Homo sapiens: one gene and its partners. The protein of the gene in region 3 interacts with the protein of the main gene of each other region in a pairwise test. Each region holds a gene or a part of one and is shown on either strand. Other genes may lie near its edges.

What was found.
Region 1: the proteins of CMYA5 (region 3) and CAPN3 interact in a two-hybrid assay, tested with the Homo sapiens proteins (one large-scale study listed by BioGRID and IntAct).
Region 2: the proteins of CMYA5 (region 3) and MYBPC2 interact in a two-hybrid assay, tested with the Homo sapiens proteins (one large-scale study listed by BioGRID and IntAct).
Region 4: the proteins of CMYA5 (region 3) and PKNOX1 interact in a two-hybrid assay, tested with the Homo sapiens proteins (one large-scale study listed by BioGRID and IntAct).

The regions. Positions count from the first base shown.
Region 1 is NC_000015.10:42,407,331-42,411,527, forward strand, and holds part of CAPN3 (calpain-3), read left to right. Parts: intron 1-880; coding exon 881-994; intron 995-1,972; coding exon 1,973-2,050; intron 2,051-2,456; coding exon 2,457-2,514; intron 2,515-2,600; coding exon 2,601-2,665; intron 2,666-3,097; coding exon 3,098-3,166; intron 3,167-3,257; coding exon 3,258-3,336; intron 3,337-3,553; coding exon 3,554-3,670; intron 3,671-3,956; coding exon 3,957-4,015; intron 4,016-4,197. UniProt on the Homo sapiens protein: Calcium-regulated non-lysosomal thiol-protease. Proteolytically cleaves CTBP1 at 'His-409'. Mediates, with UTP25, the proteasome-independent degradation of p53/TP53.
Region 2 is NC_000019.10:50,452,880-50,457,076, reverse strand, and holds part of MYBPC2 (myosin-binding protein C, fast-type), read right to left. Parts: intron 3,058-4,197; coding exon 2,898-3,057; intron 2,813-2,897; coding exon 2,708-2,812; intron 1,970-2,707; coding exon 1,781-1,969; intron 1,568-1,780; coding exon 1,433-1,567; intron 1-1,432. UniProt on the Homo sapiens protein: Thick filament-associated protein located in the crossbridge region of vertebrate striated muscle a bands. In vitro it binds MHC, F-actin and native thin filaments, and modifies the activity of actin-activated myosin ATPase.
Region 3 is NC_000005.10:79,727,392-79,731,588, reverse strand, and holds part of CMYA5 (cardiomyopathy-associated protein 5), read right to left. Parts: intron 2,675-4,197; coding exon 1-2,674. UniProt on the Homo sapiens protein: May serve as an anchoring protein that mediates the subcellular compartmentation of protein kinase A (PKA) via binding to PRKAR2A. May function as a repressor of calcineurin-mediated transcriptional activity.
Region 4 is NC_000021.9:42,980,940-42,985,136, reverse strand, and holds part of PKNOX1 (homeobox protein PKNOX1), read right to left. Parts: intron 1-4,197. UniProt on the Homo sapiens protein: Activates transcription in the presence of PBX1A and HOXA1.

The DNA of each region.
Region 1 (4,197 bases), on a different chromosome or scaffold from region 3:
ATATTTTTGGTTTTTTTTGAGACAGTCTCACTCTGTCACCCAGCCTGGAGTGCAGTGGCTTGATCTTGGCTCACTGCAAGCTCCACCTCCCATGTTCACACCATTTTCCTGCCTCAGCCTCCCAAGTAGCTGGGACTACAGGCACCCACCACCACACCCAGCTAATTTTTTTGTATCTTTAGTAGAGATGGGGTTTCACCCAGTTAGCCAGGATGGTCTTGATCTCCTGACCTTGTGATCTGCCTGCTTCGGCCTCCTAAAGTGCTGGGATTACAGGCGTGAGCCACCGTGCCCGGCCAGAGAGGATATTTCTTATATGAGGGGCAGGGCTGGGATTCCAGCCCAGTGTTCTGATGGCTCACCCACTGACCATGCCACTAATCCGTGTCCTTTTTCAATCTATACTTTGCAGGGTTGTAGAGGTTCCTTTGAGGTGCCTCAGTAGCTGCCATGGTGATGTGGGGTGCTGAGGGCAAAGAGCTCTGTTCTCATTAATCAGAGAAGCTTGTGTTTTTATATACACCATGTTTCTGCAGGAAATTTAATTTGAACAGTGTTTCCATCTGGAAAAAAAAAAGTCTACAAAATACTTGACAATCACTGCACTAGATCATGCTGCTTTTAGCATTCTTAGCATTTCACGTGCTGAGCTCTCAATACTCTACCATGAGGAGGGATGGAGTGGGTATGAAAAGATAAAGAACTGAAGTCACACGGCTTGTCAGTGGCAGAGATAGAGCTTGAACCGAGGTTGAAGAGCTCCCGCCTATTCCTTTCCTCTTCTCACTGGATAAAGCTGCTCCAAGAGAGGTGCTGCCTCAGTGTGCCTGTTCAGACTGTAATCCTCCCTTCCTTCCTGCCTCCTCCCTCCTCTCTCCAGCCCATCATCTTCGTTTCGGACAGAGCAAACAGCAACAAGGAGCTGGGTGTGGACCAGGAGTCAGAGGAGGGCAAAGGCAAAACAAGCCCTGATAAGCAAAAGCAGTCCCCACAGGTGTCTGGGCATGTGGCATGGGTGGGGTGGCCAGCACGCTACAGGGGCTTCCTATGCGCTTGGGATACACAGGGGCTGGAGGCTTCCCAGGAGTTTGTCTTGAACATCTGGAGGTTTGAATTTGTCCCACTGACCTTTTCTTTCAGCAAGTTCCCCTGAAATTTGGGCTGCTGCTTGGGTGAATATCCCAGGATGGGGGTTCCATTCTAGGAGTGGACTGGCAGGCTGAGCCTCCCATGGAGCTGATCCAGCCAGGATACAGAGAAGGGGAGGCAAAGGCTGAGACAGAACCAGCTTGAGAGCGGAGGCGCAACTCTTGTCTCCTGGTGGCCTTGAGCATTTCACAATAGGGGGATAAAGGATAGGAGCAGAAAAGTGGGGCTGACTTCAGAAATGGGGTCCTCTAGAGCTCACGGGAGGGTGTTAGATTGGAGTGGGAGCTTAGTGGAGGTGAGCCTTAGAGGCAAAAGTCTCCAGACCAATCCAGGGCCCCTCTTCTATCCGGGGGCCCCTCTTCTATCCAGGGCCCCTCTTCTGTCTGGGAGCCCCTCTTCTATCTGGGGCCTCATGCAGTGGGGCCTAGGGGAGGTTCTCTGAGGACTTGGCCTTGATGACAGGGTGGCTGGAGGAATCAGAACGGTCAGACCTTCTTTGACCTGCGGGCACCTTTAGTTGGAATGGTCAGGCCTGGGATGGTGGAGGGGGCTCTTGCAGGTGGGGACTGGGGTGGCGGGGAGGAGGCTGTATGGCCGCCATATCTCCTTTGGCTGGGGGCGTCAGGGCTGGAGAGGTGTGAAGAGTCCCTGAGGCCTCGATGCATCTCACTCCAGCTCACCAGGTCTGCATTTGCCCGTCCCCAGCTCCTGCTGCCACCTCCGGCCGTTTTAGGCACTTGGCTCCCTTGGCCCAGAGGAGCTTGCCTCACAGGCCTGTGCACCTCTGACCCCTGTGAACCAGTTTTCCTTTGTGCCTCCACAGCCACAGCCTGGCAGCTCTGATCAGGAAAGTGAGGAACAGCAACAATTCCGGAACATTTTCAAGCAGATAGCAGGAGATGTGAGTACCTCCAAGCCCAGGACGCCCACAGGTGCTTCCTTCTCTCCTGGATTAACTGCTCAGATTACCAATTATTTCATTATTGTTTGGTAGAGGTCACTTTGGACTTTGGTGGAGCCAGGGGATGTGTGCGTAGCACACAAATCCACAAGCCCTTGAGTTTTGGACTGCCACGTCTGCTGGGGGGCTCAGAGGCCTTTTTGCTCTGAGCTGCCCACGGTGGTCCTGATAGCTGAGGTGCAGTATCTGGCCCCCTGTCTTCCTCAGAAAAGCCCCAGCTTCCCATGACATAATAGCACCGACAGGGATTTTACAAACACAGCCAGGTGGAATTTGTTTTGCAAAGTGTCCGCGCCAGGAGCTGCTGTACTCCTGAACCATGACCCTCCTCTCCCTTCCTCCTCAGGACATGGAGATCTGTGCAGATGAGCTCAAGAAGGTCCTTAACACAGTCGTGAACAAACGTGAGTTGCTCAAACCAAATGGGGGTGGGGTGGGTGGGGAGTCCCGTTGTCTCAAAGCAGCTCCTCACTCTTCTCCATCCCCCCAGACAAGGACCTGAAGACACACGGGTTCACACTGGAGTCCTGCCGTAGCATGATTGCGCTCATGGATGTATCCTTCCTGCCGCCCCTTCCCGACCCTCTGTCATCAGCCCACGGGGGCCAAGGCAACATACAGGGTGCCCAGTCAGGCAAAGGGCCCTAATTTGTGCCCAGGGAAACTTAAGGAGACCCTGATTCAGAACATCTTGGATACTCGTCTGAAAGGGGTTGTTAGAGGCGGAAGGGGAGGATGTTGGGTTGTAACTGCCCTAACCCCTGTGCTTCTCTCAGGCCTGGGATCCTGCCCAAGCAAAAGTGGTCCTTAGGAGAGCGGCTCCTGGGTTACAGAGTAGGCGCAATCTCTGACTGGTGGTGGAGTGGAGGGGAGGGTTAAATAGTACAACAGGGCAGTGGGTAGGACAGCCCGGAGTCTCCTAGACCCTCCCTCCAAATCCAGGGGGATTTTGCTGTGTGCTGTGTAGCCCTGACCTCCCTCCTCCAGACAGATGGCTCTGGAAAGCTCAACCTGCAGGAGTTCCACCACCTCTGGAACAAGATTAAGGCCTGGCAGGTGGGAAGAGAAAATGAAGCGTGGGAGTCAAGAATGGGGTTGATTTGGAGATTCAGTGTGTGACCTCCATCCTCAAATTTTCTATTGCCAGAAAATTTTCAAACACTATGACACAGACCAGTCCGGCACCATCAACAGCTACGAGATGCGAAATGCAGTCAACGACGCAGGTGCTGAGAAGGAAGGGGTGGCAGGGATGTGGACCCGAGACGGTGGGAGCAGGAATGGGAGGGGACTAGGCTACTAGGGCCCCACTAGAGAAAGGAGAGGGAAAGGGCTTCTCACTTTCCCTTCCCAGGTCACAGAGTGGCCGAGAGGCAGGGAAAATAGAAGGCAGGCCCAAGGCCTCCAGCTCCACGTCCACCTCTAACATGGTCCCCTCCACAGGATTCCACCTCAACAACCAGCTCTATGACATCATTACCATGCGGTACGCAGACAAACACATGAACATCGACTTTGACAGTTTCATCTGCTGCTTCGTTAGGCTGGAGGGCATGTTCAGTAAGTGGGAGAGGGGGGCTGCCCTCTGCTCTCTTGCAGGGGCAGTTGTGGCAACAGGCATCTCACCTGATAATCTCCAGTCTGCTCCATCCAGGCTGAACAAGGGCCAATGACCTCTTTAGGCCCAGAATGGGATGGCAAAGGGAGGGTTACTGGTGATTCTCTGCCTGCACATCTTTGTGCTGATGAGGGACAGCACTGGGCACATGGTCCTCTGAGGGGAAGTTACAGTAGTAGAGGCGGAGTGCGCCTGTAACTGGCCTCTGGCCTGTGCATTCTTTCACAGGAGCTTTTCATGCATTTGACAAGGATGGAGATGGTATCATCAAGCTCAACGTTCTGGAGGTAAAGCATAGGCACAGCACATTCCCCCTACACATTAAAACTCAAGGTGGAGGGGTCAACGGGGCGGACTGGACCCAGGGTGTGCTCCTCATTTCCACACAGTGGTGGAGGGAAGGGATAGGAACAGAACATGGAGGGAGGCTCAGCAGGCTCCCAGGACACATGCACTTGAGGCCCAAAAG
Region 2 (4,197 bases), on a different chromosome or scaffold from region 3:
CAGTTAGACAGTGGAGGGGCAAGGTTGGAACCCGCATCTGTCTGACTTTAAGACCTGGGATAGTGTGTCGAGGTGATCACGTCTGTTCTCCCAGAGAGATGGCTGCGTCTGAGACATCTCCATAGCCATGGCACTGGGCCGGGCACAAGTCAGTGCTCAGTGAATGTTTGTTTGGTGGAGGATGGAGAGTGGATGTATGGAGGTACAGATGATGGATGGACAGGCAGAGAGACAATGGCTGGTTAGGTGGACAGATGGTTGGATGGCCATATAGGTAGAAAGAGGGAAGGAAGCAAAGATAGTGGTGAAGAGATAGATATATGGATGAAAAAATGATACTGGGCCGGGTGCGATGGCTCATGCCTGTAATCCCAGCACTTTGGGAGGCCGAGGCAGGTGGATCACGAGGTCAGAAGATCAAGACCATCCTGGCTAACACAGTGAAACCCTGTCTCTACTAAAAATACAAAAAAAAAAAATTAGCTGGGCATGGTTGCAGGCATCTGTAGTCCCAGCTACTTGGGAGGCTGAGGCAGGAGAATGGCGTGAACCTGGAAGGTGGAGCTTGCAGTGAGCCAATCGTGCCACTGCACTCTAGCCTGGGCAACAGAGCAAGACTCTGTCTCAAAAAAAAAAAAAAAGAGAGAGAGAGAAACGAAGGAAATATGGACAGATGGATGGATGGATGGATGGATGGATAGATGGATGGACAGATGGATGGATGGACAGATGGATGGACAGACGGATGGATGGATGGACAGATGGATGGATGGATGGATGGATGATGGACAGGTGGACAGATGGACAAATGGAGGGATGGATGGATGGATGGATGGATGGATGGATGAATAGATGGAAATATGGATGGGTGGATGGATGGATAAATGGATGGATGGATGGATGGATAGATGGAAATATGAGTGGGTGGGTGGGTGGATGGATGGATGGAAATGATGGATGGATGGATGGATGGATGGATGGATGGATGGATGGACGGTAAGATGAATGGATGGATGGATGGATGGAAATATGGATGGATGGATGTACAGATGGGTGGACAGATGGATGGACAGATGGATGGATGGGTGGATGTTAAGATGGATGAAGGAAAGATTGGTTAGATGGATAAATGAGTAGAAGAAAGAAAGAAGGCATAAAGGTAAAAGATAAAAGATAAATGGGGGGATGGAAGGATAGATGGAATGACAGAAAGTCACTGCTGTATGGAGGATGGATGTAGAAAGGAAGAAGGGAGAGAAAACACACTAGTCACAGGGGGGTCCCATCCCAGAGACTTATAACAGTACAGACACAAAACACAAGCAGGCCACTGCACCCATCTCTGTCCCACATGGTCCTATTTTCAGCTCCCTGGACTGGATACCCACCTGTGCTAGCCACCACCCCCACCAGCCCTGCCAGGGTCACTCACAGCCTTCCAGGCAGTACTCCACCAGGTACCCATCGATGCCACCTGCCCCGATCCTGTTCGGAGGCCTCCACTTGAGTGTGGTGGTGGTGTCTGTCACATCCTCCACTATCAGGTGCAGGGGTTCACTCGTGGGTGCTGCAAGCATCCAGAAAAAGAGGATATGGGGGGAATGAGGGGTCAGGGGTCAGCAGGAAGGGGCAGGAGTCAGAGGTAGAATGATTGGTCAGAAGGCCAGGGGGTAGGGTCAGAGATTGATGGCGGGCAAAAGATGGGCCAGAGGTGGACGGGGTTGATGGATCAGAGTGATCCATCATTACCAATAGGCATAAAAGTGAGGGAGGACATTACCAATAGGCATAAAAGGCTTGGTGTTCATGCTGGGCTGGGAGACCCCTATAGCATTGACGGCGAAGACACGCATCTCATAGAGGATGCCCTCGATCATCTTGGTGGACTCATAGGTGGTCTCTGTGAAGACCTCAAAGTTCAGCTTCATCCAGCGCTGAGAGCCCTTCTTCTTCCGCTCTACGAGGTACCCTGGAGGCTCCAAGCAGAGAGGAGAAGAGGGAACGGGAGGGCATGGGGCATGAGTCAGCTGGGGGAGTGAGGGCCACATCCAGAGGATCGCATGGCCAGGGCGGTCCGAGGCCATGAATCTTAGGTGGATCTCAGGGGCCACAGAGCATTCAGAGGCCACCAGTCCTGGAGTCAGGAATCAAGAGGGGGTCACAGCTCATGAACCAGGAGGCCAGGAGCCATAGAAAAACCCAGGCTACTGGTCAAAGTGAGAATTCCCAGGTCACCAGCGAGTAAAGGAAGCGGGAAGACCAAAGGGATTGAGATGGGAAAATGGAAAATCAGGGGTCAGAGGTAGGTCACTGAGGATGCTAAGGGCTCTGGGAGGTCAAGGAGAAGGCAGAGGCTGGTGCCGTGGCTGACACCTGTAATCCCAGCACTTTGGGAGTCTGAAGTGGGCAGATCACTTGGGGTCAGGAGTTCAAAACCAGCCTGGCCAACATGGTAAAACCCCATCTCTACTAAAAATACAAAAATTAGCCGGGCGTGGTGGTGGGCACCTGTAATCCCAGTTACTTGCGAGGCTGAGGCAGGAGAATTGCTTGTACCCAGGAGGCAGAGGTTGCAGTGAGCCGAGATTGAGCCACTGCACTCCAGCCTGGGCGATAGAGTGAGACTCCATCTCAAAAAAAAAAAAAAAAAAAAAAACAGAAGGCAGAAAGAGGGAAGGTCAGAGGTCATGAGGACAGAGGCACTCACCGGTGACTGGCTTCCCCCCATCGTACATTGGTGGCTCCCAGACAAGGATGGCCCAATCCTCTCCAACCGAGGTGATGCGCACAGCCTCCGGGGGGTCTGGGACATCTGCAGGGGGCAGGAGAGTCAGGTGGCCCCTCGAGGCCTCAGGGAGTCACCCCTTGGCCCAGCCACCTCGGCTTTCTCTGCTCACCTACAACTTGCAGGAAGATGGAAGCCACGTCCTCGCCGACGGGGTTGGTGACCTTGATGGTGTAGCGGCCCTCGTCTTCCCGCTGCGCACTCTCAATCACAAAGCTGCTGCAGTCCACCCGCTTCTCGATGCGGGTCCTGCCCTCGGTGGTCGTGAATACCTGAACGCAGCCACCAGATGGCCTTGCACCCCATCGTGTCCCCAAGCAAACCCAGGCCTGCCTCTGCCATTCCCCTGCTCAGAATCCTCCCATGATTCCCCATCAACACACAGAGTCCTCACTCGCTCCACTGCCCTCCTCGCCCTCCAAATGCCGTCCTTCATTAAAAGCACCAGACTGGACGGGGCGCAGTGGCTCACACCTGTAATCCCAGCACTTTGGGAGGCCGAGGCGGGTAGATCAACTGAGGTTGGGAGTTTGCGACCAGCCTGGCCAACATGGTGAAACCCCATCTCTACTAAAAATACAAAATTAGCCGGGCCTGGTGGTGCATGCCTGTAATCCCAGCTACTCAGGAGGCTGAGGCAGAAGAATCGCTTGAACCCAGGAGGCGGAGGTTGTGGTGAGCCAAGATAACACCACTGCACTCCAGCCTGGGCAACAAGAGCAAAACTCCATCTCAAAAAAAAAAGAGAAAAAAAGAAACCAACCAAACAACAACAACAACAAAAAAAAGACTGCCTTGTCCCAGAGATTTTGCAAGGCTGGTCCCTGTGCATGCAACACTAAGCTCTTCCTCATCCTTCAGGAAGCACCCAGAAGACACCTCTTCCAGGAAGCCTTCCTGGATACCCTTAGCTGGAAGTGCTGGCTCCAGCCCCTGGGTTCTCATAGCTTCTAGAACCTCCCTTTATCTCAGCCAGAGCACCCTGGACTGTGGCTTCTTGGGCAGGTGTTTGCGTCTCCGCAAGAGTAAAGGCTACTGAGCAGGGTGAGGTAGCTCATGCCCGTAATCCCAGCACTTTGGGAGGCTGATGCAGGAGTGCCACCCAAGCCCAGGAGTTCAAGACCAGCATGGGCAACATAGTGAAACCCTGTCTCAAATTTAAAAATAAATAAATAAATTTTAAGTAAAATGAAGGCTCTTGGAGGGCAGGAGCCGCATCCAACTCATGGTTGCATCCTCAGTGCCTGGTGCGGAGAAAACTTTAGGGGATGTACGCTGAGTGAGCAAATGGATGGATGTTGAGCAAGTCTGTCCATTTTACAGAAGAGGAAATGGAAGCACAGAGAAGAAATGAAAAATCGAGCTGTCCCAGGGCCTGGGACATGCAAGGTTAAAATATTTGTTGGACGGAT
Region 3 (4,197 bases):
GTCTTCTTGATCTTCTTCTGATAAATTCATGGGTGAGGATGCACCTTTTAGATTTAGAGATCTATGGACAATTTCTTCCTCCTGTGCCTCCGGTGTTGCATATGGTGGTACTGAAAATTCAGAAGCAGATGTAGAAGAGGGTGTGTATCGTTCCAACTCGACTGCCTCTTCGTCTGATAGAACAACATATTCAGATGGGGTGGCTGAAAGTGGTGGGGCCTGGCATTCAGAAGTCATCTCGGTTGTGTGTGGTGGGAAAGAGTGTTCAGATGCAACAACCAAATCTGGGGAAGATGGTCCAATGACCTCCTTGCCGTCTACTGACAGAACTGTGTGCTCAGAAATACCTTTTGGTTTGAATTGGGATGCCTCATTGATTATTTTCTTTTGAGATTCCTGTGTTGCATTGAGTGGGGCTGCATATTTGGAGATCAACTTTGAATCCGGTGTGAAACGTTCACTTCCTAGGTCCTCTCCTTCTGATGGGACCACGTGTTCTGATGTGGCAGTAGAAGGCAGTGGTGACTGGCATTCAGAAGTCTTTTCGGTTGTGGATGGTGAGAGAGAGGGCTCAGAAGCAGGGGCCACAGCTGGAGTAAACGATCCAGTGTCTTCCTTCTCTTCTGATGGAATCATGTACTCAGAAACACCTTTCAATATTAACGGGGACTTACGGTCAATTGTTTTCTTCAGTGACTCTTTTGTTGCCAGTGATGGAACTGAATATTCAGAAGCAGATGTGGAGTCTGGTGTGTAACACCCACTTTCTGAGGCCTCGTCTCCTGATAGGACCATGTATTCTGGTGTAACTGTTGAAAACAGTGGAGACTGGTTCTCTGAAGTCTTCTCAGTTGTGGATGGTGAGAGAGAGCTCTCAGATGTAGGGGCTGCAGCTGGGGAATAAGCCTCAAATTCCTCATTCTCTTCTTCTGACAAAACTGCATGTTCAGCTATAGCTTCTACATTGGATGGGGGAACTGGCTCACCTTCTTGCTCCTGTAATTCATGGTTCAAATCCTGTGGTACTGAATACTCTGATACAAAAGCAGAACCAGTAGAAACAGATGCAATTTCCTCTCTTTCTTCCTCAGACAAAGCAACATGTTCAGGAGATGATGCTGCCAATAATGGTAGAATAAGCTCTTCTTCTTTGTGCTCCACTTCAGGGGACATATGTGGTGGGAAGGGCTTCTCGGAAACCAATGGGCTTTCTGGGTAATCAAGTTCTACGATCTCTTCTTCTACTAAATTAGAATCTTCAGGTTCAGGGGTAATAGCTATGGGTAGGGAAGTTTCTATTTCTTCTTTCTCTGGTTCTTCTAACATTAGAGGTTCAGAAAGAGAAATGGATGGCTCAAGCATGTTTTCCTCCTTCTCTCCTTTGACACTGGGATGGGTAGGGGTCAGTTTTGCGGAGACTGGTTCTGCCCTTTCTATTGAAGTCAGGTCCGGCTGTTCTTGGTCTGGGTCCAAACCATCCTGGGTAGATGCTGCCAGACCTGGTGACGCTGCCTCCAGAGAAATGGAATGGTGAGCAGAATACACATCTTCCTTCTTTACCTCATTAGCAAATGATGGTGAGACTGAAGAGTCATTCTCTGAAGCTGCAGTTCCTGGTGAAGCAAGCTCACATTCTTCCTTTGTTGTTCTCAGGAACATAGTTGCAGGTGTGTCGGGTGTCACAGATGGAGGTTCCACTTCATGTGGTTTTGCTTCATCTTCTGGCTGTTGTGGCACTGACTGTGAATGCCTGAGCTGTATTCCTTGTTCTGCTCTGCCACTACTTGAATAAGAGGGAACTGTGTGCTCCAATGCAGATGTGGCATTTAGGGGAGAATCAGCATAAATTTTCTTTTGATCTTCATGACTGAACATTAAGGTTAGGGACTCTGATCCTTTGGAGAGTGCGCCTCTCCAGGGTGGAAAAACCTCTTTTACTTTATCCTCTATGCTTTGGGCTACTAATTTGCGTGTTTTGGACACTGTATTAGAACCACTATTGTCCAAATCTGGCTCTAGACTAATGGATGCATCTTTCCCTTTCCTATAATGTATTTCTTTAATTACATAACCCTTTGGCAATGTTCCATAAAATTGTAGAGGAATTAATTCTTCTTTAACCGAATTAAACATCTTAATTTTATATTGTACTGTTCCTATGTAGACTGGTCTTAACACTAATGGCTTGTGTTCTTTGTATATTGCCCCAGTAATCGGAGGTGTATTTGAAGTGGTCTTCTTTTTTCTTGCTTTATCATAAATGCCAGTATATGACTTCTCTTTCTCCGTGGTTAGTACCTGGCTTGCTGAAGTTAAAGGACTGCCTTTTTTGTTTGTTGGAACATCTTGGGATTCAAAAGAATTTCTTTTTCTGTTGCCTTTCCGGCGTAATGATGGTGAACCATGCTTTGACTTATGAGTCCTTTTCCGAACCTTTTTCACTTCATCCACAATAAAGGAAACATTTCCAGGAGGAGAATTCACAGTTGACCCTTCCCGACTACACACACCAGAAGTCTGACTTTCTTCTGAAGCCCAAGGAGTAGAAGATCTACTTGAATTGGTTTCCCAGGTTATCCCACTATCTTCCCTTTGGACTGTCACCATGGAAAAGGAGGGGTCAGATATGATATACTCCTGCTTGATCTTTCCCTCTTCATCCTGGTCTGATAACCTATAGCAAATAACAATATTAATTATATATTATCATAATAAAATAATACTAATTAATAGAATAAGTAAATACATTTTTACCAGGTAAAGGATTAATGTGAAATTAAAATACAGACATCAATATTGCCTTCCATGTCAAAAAGAGGGATGTATATCAAATAAAGTTTAAAAACCAAAGTCAGGATACCCAATACAATGACACATCCCAGGCTGGAATGACTCACTATTCCACAAACTCAAAAAAGCTAAAGTTAAATTTACCACCTTCTCTCATCAGGATTGCCTTCCTGATCTTGTCGGGACTCAGCAGTCACTCAAGCCCACTCTAGTCACCAGCATCTTCATAATAACTCTTGTATCTGTGCTCTCTCTGTTACCACGATCGCCACCTCACCCAGCTTTTCACCACTTCCCTCCTAGTCACTGCCATTAACTTCCTAACTGGTCAGCTGGTATCACAGGTACCTCATTTTCCCCCACTCTTAACCCACTGTGCCGCATCCTCCCAGACTGGCTTTACTAACCAGCTCAGTATGCCACCCCCTGCTTTAAAATCTCAGCAAATTCTTCATATCCACAGAAGAAAAAAAAAAAAAAGATGTTCAAAATCCTTAGCTCTCTAATCCCTATCTGACATTCTTTCCAAGTGTGTACCTGCACCCTACCCCTACAGGTAAATTCCTGTTTTAACAATAATTCACTGTTCGGCAAATAGATCTTGGGAACTCTGAGTCATGATAAAGAGAAAACAGGTCATTGAATAGAGAGAGGTCACAAAAAATGTCAACCTACTGTGCTTCACTTTCCTCATCTATAAAACAGGGATAATAATAGAACCTATCTCGTGAGCTTGTTGAGAAGATTAAATTAGTTAACTCATGCGAAATGCTTAGGGAATATTCCTGGCATGTAGTTAGTGCTCACTCAATAAATGTTATCTGTAGTCAGGCCTTCCTGATGACACATGATGAAAGGCGCCTGGGCATGATCACTTGCAGCTGCTACAGGATACAGAAGTGTGGAAAGGCTGTGTCCGTGGACTGGTCTCTCATCCCTTCCGAGATGGCTGGCTTTGGCCGCTCCTTCATTTGCTATTGGGCCCCCATCTTAGACTCTGTAGCGCTCTTCTCTGAAATTGTCTTCTACCTCTTCCTCACTTGTACTTACGCTGTTCCTCCATTTAGAATGCAGAGCCCCGACAATACTCCACTTCTGCAACTGTAAATTCTACCTACTCCTTAAGGCTGGGTTTAAATTCCTCTGCGGTTATCATTCCTGACCAATGCAGCAGCCGCGTTTGCCATCACTTCATAAACATATTTCCTCCTAGGAATATGCAAGATGAAGCCCAGCTACTGACTGGCTTACATCTGTCTACAACAATAAAAACAAAAAACCTTCTGTTAAAAACACGAAACATAAGTGTTAAATTAAGACAATTGAAAAAAAATCTACAGTTAGATTTATGTCCCTTCGTAAACTGTTTTTATCATCAGTCTCTGCATATATCAGAGGTCCTTAACT
Region 4 (4,197 bases), on a different chromosome or scaffold from region 3:
GCATGCCTGTAGTCCCAGCTACTCGGGAGGCTGAGGCAGGAGAATCGCTCGAACCCGGGAGACAGAGGTTGCAGTGAGCCGAGATCGTGCCATTGCAGTCCAGCCTGGGCAACAGAGCGAGTGAGACTCCATCTCAAAAAAAAAAAAAAAAAAAAAAAAAAAGAAAAGAAAATGAGGAACCCTAACCCTTGGAGGCAAGGACCCCTTTCCCATGGACAGCCTCTCTCAGGCACTGCCTACACTGGGCACACAGCACTGTGGAACTGGCACCTGCACTCCCTCCCTGCACAGCAGCCACCCCTCTCTACTCTCCCTGTCAGCACTAAGCTTGGTGGGTCAGAGGGACTCCAGCTTTCGGATGGCAAAACACAGAAAGTATCAAAACCTAAATACTCAAAAGGCTCCACAACATAGAGCATGGCCGTAAAATAATACAAAAAACTGGAACTGGCCGGGCATGGTGGCTCACGCCTATAATCCCAGCACTTTGGGAGGCCAAGGCAGACAGATCACCTAAGGTCGGGAGTTCGAGACCAGCCTGAACAACATGGAGAGACCCTGTCTCTACTGAAAATACAAAATTAGCCAGGCGGGGTGGCACATGCCTGTAATCCCAGCTACTTGGGAGGCTGAGGCAGGAGAATTGCTTGAACCCAGGAGGTGGAGGTTGTGGTGAGCCAAGATCATGCCATCGCACTCCAGCCTGAGCAACAAGAGCAAAACTCTGTCTCAAAAAAAAAGAAAAAGAAAAAAACTGGACTCACAAAAGTGTATGAGACCTTAAATTTTTAAAACGAGAAATGTGTGGATTATATAAATGTTTTAAAAATCACTAAAATGCCAACTAAAAGCATAACACAATATAGCTTAAAAAATATGTAAAAACGTATGAACATAGCCAGGCACAGGGGCCCATGTCTTTAAGTCCCAGCTCCTTGGGAGGCTGAGGCAGGAGTATTACTGGATTACTTGAGCCCAGGAGTTGGAGACCAGCCTGGACAACATCATGAGACCCTGTCTCTTTAAAACACACACACACACACACACACACACGCACACACACGCACACACGTATGCATGTAAGAAACCCAATTCAAAAAGGGGCAAAGGACTTGAAGAGATATTTCTCCAAAGACATGTAAATGGCCGATGAACATGTGAAAAGATGCTCCACATCACTAATTATTAGGGAAATACAAATCAAAATGACAGTAAGATGCCACCTCAAATCCATTAGGATGGCTGCTATTAAAAAAAGCAACAACACATAAGAAAATAAGTGTTGGGTAAGATACGGAGAAACTGGAACCTCTGTACTGTTGGTAGGAATGTAAACTGATACTCTCTCCTTATTGAGTCCTTGGAAAAATAAAAAATAAATTAAATTAAAAGGAATATAAAACAGTACAGTTGCTGCGAAAAATCGGATGGAGGTTCCCTAAAAAATTAAAAACAGAATTCCAGTATGATCCAGCAATCCCACTTCTAGATCTATATCCAAAAAAATTGAAAGTAGGATCTCGGAGAAGTATTTACACACTCAGGTTCACAGTTTTATTATTCAAAATAGTCAAAAGGTAGAAGGAACTCAAGTGTCTGTTGAGGGATGGATAAACAAAATTCAGTATATCCACACAATGGAGTATTCAGCCTTAAAAAGGAAGGAAATTCTGACACACACTACAACATAGATGAACCTTAAGGACATTATGGTAAATGAGCTAAGCTGGTCACAAAAAGACAAATACTACCTAATTCCACTGGTATGAAGTCCCTATAGTAGCGAAATTCAGAGACAGGAAGTAGAATGGTGGTTGCCAGGGGCTTCAGGGAGGGGAGATGGGGAGGCAGTGTTTAATGGGTATAGAGTTTCAGTTTTACAAGATGAAGGGTTCTGGAGACAGATGGTGGTGATGGCTGTACAAAAGTATGAATGAACTTACCACCACTGAACTGCACACTGAAAATGGTTAAGATGGTAAATTTTGTTACGTGTATTTTACCATAACAAAAAATTGGAAAAAAAAGGCCAGCCACAGTGGTTCATGCCTGTAATCCTGGAACTTTGAAAGGCAACAGTGGGCAGCTCATCTGAGGTCAGGAGTTCGAGACCAGCCTGGCCAACATGGTAAAACTCCATCTCTACTAAAAATACAAAAATTAGCCAGGCGTGGTGGTGGGCACCTGTAATCCCAGCTACTCAGTAGGCTGAGGCAGGAGAATTGCCTGAACCCGGGAGGCAGAGGTTGCAGGGAGCCAAGATTGCACCACTGCACTCCAGCCTGGGCAACAGAGCAAGCCCCTGTTTCGTGGGGGAAAAAAAAGTATGCTCAAATACGTAACTAAATTTAGAAGAACGTAAAGTTTAGCAATTTAATGTTTATTAAACTTTTTTTTTTTTTTTTGAGATGGAGTTTCGCTCTTGTTGCCCAGGCTGGAGTGCAATGGCGCGATCTCAGCTCACCATAACCTCCACCTCCTGGGTTCAAGTGATTCTCCTGCCTCAGCCTCCCAAGTAGCTGGGATTACAGGCATGCACCACCACACCCGGCTAATTTTTTGTATTTTTAGTAGAGACAGGGTTTCTCCATGTTGTTCAGGCTGGACTCGAATTCCCGACCTCAGGTGATCCACCCACCTTGGCCTCCCAAAGTGCTGGGATTACAGGCGTGAACCACTGCACCCGGCCTTATGCTCCTTTTTCTTGTCAAGTTAAATTCCTAACATTTTTAATGCAAAAAAATGTACAAACCTTCATAAAATGTCTGAGAGAACATGTAACAAAACACATGCGCTCACTCAGGCATTATGTTCTGGAAACTGTGATCATAGTACCTACCAATCCACAGCCCCTTTGAGTGACCCAACCCCACTGGCAGGCCCTGCTCAAAGGGGGCCTTCCTTGTGCAGGTGTCAGAAGCTCATTCCTCCCCAAGCACCACTCCCTGGGCCAGGTAGCCCTGCAACACCCAAGGCCAGCCCCCAGCCCGAAGGTCAGCGCCTGGTAGGTGGTGTGAGGGGAAAGAGCACAGGCACTCTCTCTGAGGTGGGTGCTGGAAAAGGGAGAGTACAGGGCAGGTAAGGCTGGGTGAGCCCCCACTGTGAGGGGAGCGTACAGATGGAACAGACAGTGGAGGGCAACCACCTAATTGAAGCGGAAGGCCAAGAGCCCTGGTGCAGAACTGGATCCTGCCAGAGCACAAACCATGGTTCCATCTGCCCAGAGGCCCAGCAACAATACAGTGGTCCCAAGAATCCCATAGACTCCTGTTTTCTTTATCCCTGCATGATCCTGAACCACCTATCTCACCACCCACCCAACTTGAAGTCAGCCTGCTCCCTGCCACCCTGAGAACCCGACTAAAACAGCCAATCATTCCAGCGTCAATCGCAGACGGCAAACAGTACAATTAGCTGGGTGTGATGACACGTGCCTGTAATCCCAGCTACTTTGGGGGCTGTGGCGGGAAGATTACTTGAGCCCAGAAGCTCCCGGCTGCAGTGGGCCGAGATCGTGCCACTGCACTCCAGCCTGGGTGAAAAAGTGAGACCCTATCTCAAAATAAAATAAAATTAAAATTAAATAAAATAAATAATAAAATAAAATAAGCTGCTCTGTCCCCTTCTCAAGTCCCTGAGGCATGGCCTCAGAATCAGAGCTTTAAACAGGAGTTTTATACCACATGCCAGACAACACGTTGACTGAATTACCACACTGCCTTCTATGTGAATCTTCCAGAAACAGTAACTAAACCGGCAGGGGCTAATAATCCAAAACAAGGAGCTACCATCTGCCAAGGGCGGGAACAGGCCAGGCTCCAGACTTTGCACACTGTCACGAGCAGGGCACCGCCAGCACCAGGCCTGCTGGCTCTTTCCACCAAGGACCATGCCTCTCAGCCCTTGAGTGCTTCTCCTAACAGTTTCCAGACTGACCTTCTTCTATGTGATATGTCCACTCTACATGTCCTCCTGAACAGTGTACACAAGACAGAACCATGAGGTATCCACTCAGTGCTGCACACGGATGCAAGATGGTACTTCCCAGGGCCTGCAGCCACTTCCTTCACCCTCACCTCCAAGGACACACACTGTTAGGCTTTGGGTTCCCCTATCTGTGCCGTTTTTATTTCCTTGTCTCTTTTGTCATCAATATAATCATTTGAGGAAGTAAAGAAAGGACACCATATATTCCTA